Regions from separate parts of the Homo sapiens genome. Here all the other regions are linked to region 3. The links come from fine-mapping of genetic effects on gene expression. A gene starts in region 3. Each other region holds a variant in brackets. All regions are shown on one strand. Distances are from middle to middle.

Region 1 (2,756 bases), 28 kb before region 3:
TATACTGTCATATAAAAGGATATGGGATTGGAAGTTAAAAGGTTCAAACAGAGGCTTCTCACCAACCAGCTGATTATTCTGGGGCCCTAGTTTCCTTTTTTTCTTTTTTTGAGACGGAGTCTCGCTCTATCCCCCAGGCTGGAGTGCAGTGGCGCGATCTCGGCTCACTGCAAGCTCCGCCTCCCTGGTTTACGCCATTCTCCTGCCTCAGCTTCCTCAGTAGCTGGGACTACAGGTGCCTGCCAACACGCCCAGCTAATTTTTTGTATTTTTTAGTAGAGACGGGGTTTCACCGTGTTAGCCAGGATGGTCTCGATCTCCTGACCTCGTGATCCGCCTGTCTCGGCCTCCCAAAGTGCTGGGATTACAGGCATGAGCCACCGCGCCCGGCCTGGGCCCTAGTTTCTTCATCTGAAAAAGAGAGATTATGGCTCTCAAAGCTATTAGGAGAGATCAACTAAGGCAATGTGGGTAAACATGCATTGGAAGCTGTGGGGATATTTCAAACACCATGTGGACTCAGAACTAAAAGGAGGGGAACCAATGGCCTGGAGCGTCTACAACGCACCAGTCCCTGGCTCACTTTCTCTGCTTTTACCAAACACACCCCTCAACTCTGCAAAGAGAACACACCTTCCAAAGAAACTGAAGCCCATACGAGTTAAGAAACCTGTGCAAGATTAGAGAAGCACAGCTGGGATCGATCACAACCCAAAGCTGTGTTGAAAGTGTTTTCTTTGGCCGGGTGCGGTGACCCACGCCTATAATTCCAGCACTTTGGGAGGCCGAGGCAGGCGGATCACCTGAGGTCAGGAGTTCAAGATCAGCCTGGCCAACATGGTAAAACCTCGTCTCTACTAAAAATACAAAGATTAGCCAGGAGTGGTGGTGTGCGCCTGTAATCCCAGCTTCTAGGAAGGCTGAGGCAGGAGAATCACTTTAACCTGGGAGGCAGAGGTTGAAGTGAGCTGAGATTGTGCCACTGCACTCCAGCCTGGGCGACAGAGACTCTGTCTCAAAAAAAAAAAAAAAAAAAAAAGAGAAAGTGTTTTATTTCACCCACAGGCTACTCTGATCCCACAGCCCCTGAGTTGACCATTATCACTGCCCTGATCATAGGTATTCCCCTCTCGCTGGGGAAGCTCATCCAGGACAGGCCTGGTGCTGTCATCTCTATGTATGTGGCACCAAGGAAAGTGCCTGGCACTGAATGAACAACTCACACCACCCCACTTCCTTACTGAACAAAATGAGGCATTATCCCATTTATTGTTCATTTCGGAAGGCCTCTCTGGAATGCTCACTACACCAGGAGGCCAAGACAGTTCCACCTTTCACAAACCCCTGGCTGACAACTCCTATTTTATTCTCAGCACTTACTTATTTATTTTTGAGATGGAGTCTCACTCTGTTGCCCAGGCTGGAGTGCAATGGCG[C/T]GATCTCGGCTCACTGCAACTTCCGCCTCCCGGGTTCAAGCAATTCTCCTGCCTCAGCCTCCTGAGTAGCAGGTGTGGTGGTGCACACCGCACCCAGCCAGGCCTGACGGTTTTAAATGCTGAAAAATAGGCCGGGCATAATGGCTCACACCTGTAATCCTAGCACTCTGGGAGGCCAAGGCGGGAGAGAATCACCTGTGGTCAGGAGTTTGAGAGACTAGCCTGGCCAATATGGTGAAACCCCGTCTCTACTAAAAATACAAAAAAATTATCTGGGTGGTAGTCCCAACTACTTGGGAGGCTGAGGCAGGAAAATTGTTTTAACTCGGGAGGTGGAGGTTGCAGTGAGCTGACTGAACCACTGCAGTCCAGCCTGGGTGACAGAATGAGACTCTGTCTCAAAAACAAAAAAGGAAAAAAAACCCTCAGGCCTGGCGCAGTGGTTCATGCCTGTAATCCTAGCACTTTGGGAGGCCAAGGTGGGAGGATTGCTTGAGATCAGGAGGTAGAGACTGCAGTGAGCCGTGATCGCACCACTGCACTCTACATTCTAGCCTGGGTGACAGAGTGAGACCTTGTCTCTAAAAGAAGAAAAACAAAAACAACTCATAACACTGAAAAACCCAGTGTGCAAGACCTTATCTCCTATTACAAGTGAAGAAAGGGAGCACAAAGATATCAAGTGGCCTGCCCAAGGCCACAGGGTGAGTCAGAGAAACAACTGGAAAGCCAGCGAAACAATCTGTCAGAGACCTGACCAGAAGGCCCTTCAATTTCTTTTTCTTTTTTTTTTTTTTTGAGATGGAGTTTCCCTCTGTCACCCAGGCTGGAGTGCAATGGCGCGATCTCAGCTCACTGCAACCTCCACCTCCCAGGTTCAAGCGATTCTCCTGCCTCAGCCTCTTGGGTAGCTGGGATTACAGGTGCCCGCCACCACGCCCGATTAATTTTTGTATTTTTGGTAGAGATGGGGTTTCACTATGTTGGCTGGGCAGGTCTCAAACTCCTGACCTCAGGTAATCCACCTGCCTCGGCCTCTGAAAGTGCTGGGATTACAGGTGTGAGCCACTGCGTCCGACCTGAAGGCCCCTGAATTTTTAACTTATGCTACACTGGTTTCTCCCAGGATGCCTCATTCAGAGGGCTTTGTCCAGCTTTTGTGTAGTTGGGTGTCTAGCCAGGCCCCAAAGATCTAGAAATGAAAAAGCCCAGGCTAAAATTCAGAAGGCCAGAGGGACTTAAATATCTCTAAAGCAAACTCAGATAGCACTGAAAGGAAACTCCTTCCTATGCCCTGTATGCTTGGGCACCACGGTAGTG
Region 2 (2,756 bases), 47 kb before region 3:
CCTTCCCTGCCTGCCTCATCCTCCCAGGCCACTGTCCAGGAAGCTGGCCTCTCTGCCTGTTCCCCACAGCCCCTGGGGGTGGGGCCAGAGTAGGGCAAAAAGGGCCTGGGCCTGGCCCAGCAGAGCCTCTGCCCCTCCTTCGGGGGCTCCTGTTCTTGTGGGCTGAGAGCTGCAGCCCTGCAGCCGGCCTGGCTGTGGCTCAGTGGTCAGGGCCAAGTGCAGAGCAAACACCCTGCCCACTGGGCAGCCATTTCACGGTCATTCCCAGGCTGCATGGGGTCCCCAGTCGGGCAACTAAGTGCAGATGTGAAACAACGAGCTTTCCAAGATCCAGGGATTTGACCCTTGGGAAAGAGACTCCCTAAGGGAACTGCTTCCTGTCACTCCCCAACCACCACTTTGAGAAATAATTTTCTCTCCCTCAACCTCACTGCCAGCCTCAGTCAAGAGCAAACCGAGGACTGGTAGTGGGAGCTCAGGGCCACCTTGGGATTCTCTGCTCTCGCTGCTGGCTGAGCCCAGGCAAGGCCCCTGCCCTCTCTGGGCTTCCATTTCCCTCTCCTGCTCCAAACTTGCTAGCTTCCTTCCCTATCTCAACATCATAGGGACCCTTCGAGATGGGAACTACTAATAGGGGAAATCATATGGGAAACCAGGCTGGGCGCAGTGGCTCACACCTATAATCCCAGTACTTTGGGAGGCCGAGGTGGGAGGATCACCTGAGGTCAGGAGTTCCAGACCAGCCTGACCAACATGGTGAAACCCTGTGTCTACTAAAAATACAAAAATTAGCCGGGCGTGGTGGCAGGTGCCTGTAATCCCAGCTACTCAGGAGGCTGAGAGGTAGGGGAATCACATGAACCTGGGAGGTGGAGGTTGCAGTGAGCTGAGATCCTGCCACTGCACTCCAGCCTGGGTAACAGAGTGAGACTCCATCTCAAAAATAAAATAAAAAATGACCATATCCTTATAGGAACCATTATTTTGAACTCAGAATCTCAGAAAAACCAGGATTTGGGGCCTGGAACTTTCTTTGTCTTATTTTGTTTTGTTTTGGATTTTTTGGGGAGACAGAGTCTTGCTCTGTCACCCAGGCTGGAGTACAGTGGCGCGATCTAGGCTTACTGCAAGCTCCGCCTCCCGGGTTCACGCCATTCTCCTGCCTCAGCCTCCCGCCACCA[C/T]GCCTGGCTAATTTTTTGTATTTTTAGTAGAGATGGGGTTTCACCGTGTTAGCCAGGATGGTCTCCATCTCCTGACCTCGTGATCTGCTCACCTCGGCCTCCCAAAGTGCTGGGATTACAGGCGTGAGCCACCGTGCCTGGCTGGGGCCCGGAACTTTCTAAGGCAGAGGCGGCAGAGACAAAGAGGTGGCTGGAGGTGGGGCAGTGCCGAGCCAAGTCTCAGGACATCCCTACTGCCGAGCCTCCCCTCCCACAAAGTAAACCGGCAGGTGGGCAGTGCAGGCGGGGCCCAGCTCGGGTTTCACTCCTTCCCCGCTCTCGGGGACAATAAAATGCTCCCTTTGCCCTGGAAATCCCACTTGTATAAAATCCAAAAGAAGAAATAAGCTCTTATGTTCAAACAGGTTTGTTCCAACCTCATTTATAATGGAAAAATATTAACTGAAAAATTCCTTAGTATCCGACAATGGGGGAGAAGTTAACAGTTTGACCGGAGCTGAGTGACATGCAAAAGGGTGTTTGTGGAGTGCAGGGAGCTCCTGCTGTGTGTGTGGGAGGGTGGAGAGGGCATGGGGAGAGGAGCAGGGACCCCAGAGTCAGACTGTCTAGGTTTAAATCCTGTCTGCTCCTTCCTAGCTGTGTGACCTTGAGTCATAACCCAAAGCCCTCTGTACCTCCATGTCCCCCTCCATAAACTGGCACTGGGCTGGGCATGGTGGCTTATGCCTGTAATCCCAGCATTTTGGGAGACCAAGGCAGGTGGATCACCTGAGGTCAGGAGTTAGAGACCAGCCTGGCCAACATGGTGAAACCCCGTCTCTACTAAAAATACAAAAATTAGCCAGGTGTAGTGGCAGGTGCCTGTAGTCCCAGCTACTCAGGAGGCTGAGGCAGGAGAATCGCTTGAACCCAGGAGGCAGAGGTTGCAGTGGGCCGAGATTGTGCCACTGTGCTCCAGCCTGGGTAATAGGTGACAGAGCGAGACTCCGTCTCAAAACAAAACAAAACAAAAAAAAGGAGAGAGAGACTTGGGGGATGTGTGTGCCCAGAGGAAAATCCATGTGAGGACCCAGCAAGAAGGTGGCCACCCGCAAGCCAAGCAGAGAGGCTTCAGGAGAAACCAACCCTGCCAGCACCTTGATTTTGGACTTCCAGCCCCAGAACTGTGAAAAAATAAACATCTGTTGTTTAAACCACCCAGTCTGTGATATTTTGTGATGGCTGGCCTAGCAAACTAATACACATTACTAACACACAATAAGAGAAGCGTTTAATAGGGCGCTTACCACGTAATTGCATTGTGTTCTGACATTACATTTACGATCTCATAACCATGAGGAGGGTCCTGTCCTCCCATTTCAGAGATGAAGGAAACTGAGGCTTGGCTAGTGACGGAGAGGGCTGTGACTGGAGCCAGGACTGTGTGACTCCAAGGCCCCACCAAAGCCTCCTCCTGGGATGGACCATGGACTTTCCTGCCTCTGTGCTGTGCATACGCTCTCCCTTCTGCCTGGAATACCCTTCCCACCACTTGCCTCTCAGGACGAGTCCCAGTCGATTCTTCAAAACTCTTCT
Region 3 (2,756 bases):
GAGGTGGGTGGATCTCCTGAGGTCAGGAGTTCGAGACCAGCCTGGCCAACGTCGTGAAATCTCATCTCCACCAAAAATATAAAAAAATTAGCCGGGTGTGGTGGTGCTTGCCTGTAATCCCAGCTACTGGGGAGGCTGAGGCAGGAGAATCGCTTGAACTAGAGAGGCGGAGGTTGCAGTGAGCTGACCTCGTGCCATTGCACTCCAGCCTGGGCGACAGAGTGAGACTCCGTCTTAAAAAAAAAAAAAAGCGAAATACCCTTTTTCGTCCATTCCTCCCATACCTACTGGCCAATCAAGGTGTGTGGTTCGTGTGGGGAAGGTCCCAGCTTCCGCAGGTGAGCTCTGGCACCGGCCTTACCTGCACTGATGCACCTGGCCCTTCTGGTCAGTTAGGATGAAGTAGTGGCCATTCCAGGCCTGTCGGTCCTTGTCCAGAGTGACGTGGGCGATGGTGGTGTTGTACTGGACACGGAGCCCCAGCGTGTCCGCGAAGTCACCCAGGTAGCGCACCATGTCGCGGGCGTCGGGGAAGTAGGCACGCGAGTAGTGTCTGAAGAGCAGCCGGGGGTCGTGGCTGAGCAGAGAGTTCCAGTCGTGGCGGAGGTTGAACTCGGCGTTAGCCTTGCCCGTGTACCGCTTGTTGATGCTGATGAGCTTGCGGTGCCGCGGGTAGCGTGTGAAGAAGCTGCCGGGCCGCGGGGCCCGCTCGAACACTGCGTAGTCGCGTCCAGCGCGCTGCAGGAAGTAGGCCATCTGCAGGCCCGCGGGCCCAGCGCCCAGCACGCAGTAGTCCCGGCGCGGGGGCACCGACAGCGCTGGGTGCAGGGCGATGGCCAGGAGCAGCCCCGGGGGACCCCACAACGGGGCCGCAGCGGAGAGGCCCATCCTGCAGCAGATCAGAGGGGTAAGGCCTCGCACCCGGCCCGGCGGCTGGGAGACACGAGGCCCAGAAAGAGGCGGGGCCTGCGGGAACTCTCACTGCAATCTGGGTCACGGCCAGGCCCAGAAGCCGTCCTCAGAGCTCATTTGCCCGGACTCCACCGTTTCAAGCTGGGACTTGGGGCTCCCCGGAATCCCGAGCCCCTCCATCTTATCTCCCTCAGGGTCTCCTTCCTCAGGGGCACCGGCTCCCCGCTTATGATTGTAGTAACCTCCACCCTGGGGAAGGAGAGCGTACTCCCCAATTTTCCCCTAATTTGAGGGTGCCCAACACCCCTTTGAACCACCCTCCAGGTTGGACCTTCCAGAGGCCTTGGCCCCTCTCCAGCGACCGGGTGGGAGCCTGAAGTGGGTGTGGCCTGCGTGCGCCCCGCCCCCTGCCAGGGTCCGCGCGCCCCAGGCTCTTCGGCCACGTGACAGGGATGCCGCGCACACCTGCCGCCCGCCCGCGTGCGCTTCAGGAGCCGCCAGGTCCCTACGCCCGCAGCTCCGGCCTCCCCGCCTCCGACCGAACCCTGAGAAACGCGCGAACCTCCCAGCCGCTCCGGCTGCAACCCGTGGTCTAATGAGGCCGCGCTTGGCTCGCTTGCTCCGCGGCGGCTCCGCCCCTCGCGCCCGGACCAATGGCAGGGGGCGGGGTCACGTGCGCGGCGCGCGGCACGCCGGGACCAGCTGGCAGGCTGCCTGCTCCGGCCCAGCGCGGGAGAGGCGCGCGCGTGCTGCGTTCGCTGCTCCGGGGGCTGGTAGAGGGGCCTGGGGCTAGCGCGCACCCGCGAGGGTGGAAGGTCTGGAGATCCGGGATGGGGAACTGGGTCCTTCGTTTTAAAAGGTGCCTCTCTACACGGAGGGAGGGGAGCACGTGATTTTTGGAGCTAATCCTAGCTCTCATATTCCATGAATGTAGCCAAACGCTAAAACTAGTTGGCCTACCCAGTTTTGTGGGACTGGAAACCAGCGTGGTGGAGCCAGGACCGATAAGCCAATTAACAAGCGTTTGCTACAGTGACTCAGTGTACTGCTTACCAAGTAACATACACGACTGTCCTAATCTTCCACCAAATAGGAGAGGTGGGCAAGGCATTGTTTCCGACATTTGGTAGCTGACTGGTCAAATGGAGACATAGGGATGAAGGGATATGTTTACAATCACAGGAAGTGGAGCCTGGAATTAAAACTCAGTGGAGGCAAGATAAATGGCAGGAGGAAGATAACGTGAACTGGATGATGAAGGTTGGCTTCCCAGGGGTGGCAAGTGGCCCCTGCATGAGATTTACATGGGGAGAAATACGAAGTCAGTGTAGGAACCTTCAAAGTCCAGTGAAATGGGGCTGAGTGTTCTTGGGGGAAGGGCAGGTGGAAAGAACTGCGAGCCTGCAGATTTGCATGGCTGGAGATTCTTTGAATTAAAAATCGTAGCTGGGGACTCCTTAGAAAAATTTTCCTGACCTCTCAGGCCTACAAGTACCTACCAAAGAATGTCATTTACTTTTTCTTTTTTTTTTTTTTTTGAGATGGAGTCTCACTCTGTCGCCCAGGCTGGAGTGCAGTGGCGTGATCTCGGCTCACTGCAAGCTCCACCTCCCAGGTTCACGCCATTTTTCTGCCCCAGCCTCCCTAGTAGCTGGGACTACAGGTGCCCGCCACCACACCCGGCTAATTTTTTGTATTTTTAGTAGAGACAGGGTTTCACTGTGTTAGCCAGGATGGTCTCGATCTCCTGACCTCGTGATCCGCCCGCCTCGGCCTCCCAAAGTGCTGGGATTACAGGCGTGAGCCACCGCGCCTGGCCGAATGTCATTTACTTTCTTCAGTCT

The links. PIP is the estimated chance that this variant, and not a neighbour inherited with it, causes the effect.
Region 1: its variant is fine-mapped to the expression of FOXRED2 in sigmoid colon (GTEx, PIP above 0.99).
Region 2: its variant is fine-mapped to the expression of FOXRED2 in whole blood (INTERVAL, PIP 0.97).

The regions. Positions count from the first base shown.
Region 1 is chr22:36,477,116-36,479,871 of GRCh38, forward strand. All of the region lies in intron 2 of TXN2 (thioredoxin 2), which reads right to left. Among named protein-coding and RNA genes, the nearest start is that of TXN2, 3.1 kb to the right of the region's middle. The variant C/T (reference allele first, on the strand shown) is at 1,437.
Region 2 is chr22:36,458,093-36,460,848 of GRCh38, forward strand. No RefSeq gene overlaps it. Among named protein-coding and RNA genes, the nearest start is that of TXN2, 22 kb to the right of the region's middle. The variant C/T (reference allele first, on the strand shown) is at 1,182.
Region 3 is chr22:36,505,535-36,508,290 of GRCh38, forward strand. It overlaps FOXRED2 (FAD dependent oxidoreductase domain containing 2), which reads right to left and starts at 1,506. Exons shown (of 9, transcript NM_001102371.2): 1 at 1,475-1,506; 2 at 362-889. The coding sequence starts at 888. RefSeq lists a silencer at 1,253-1,752.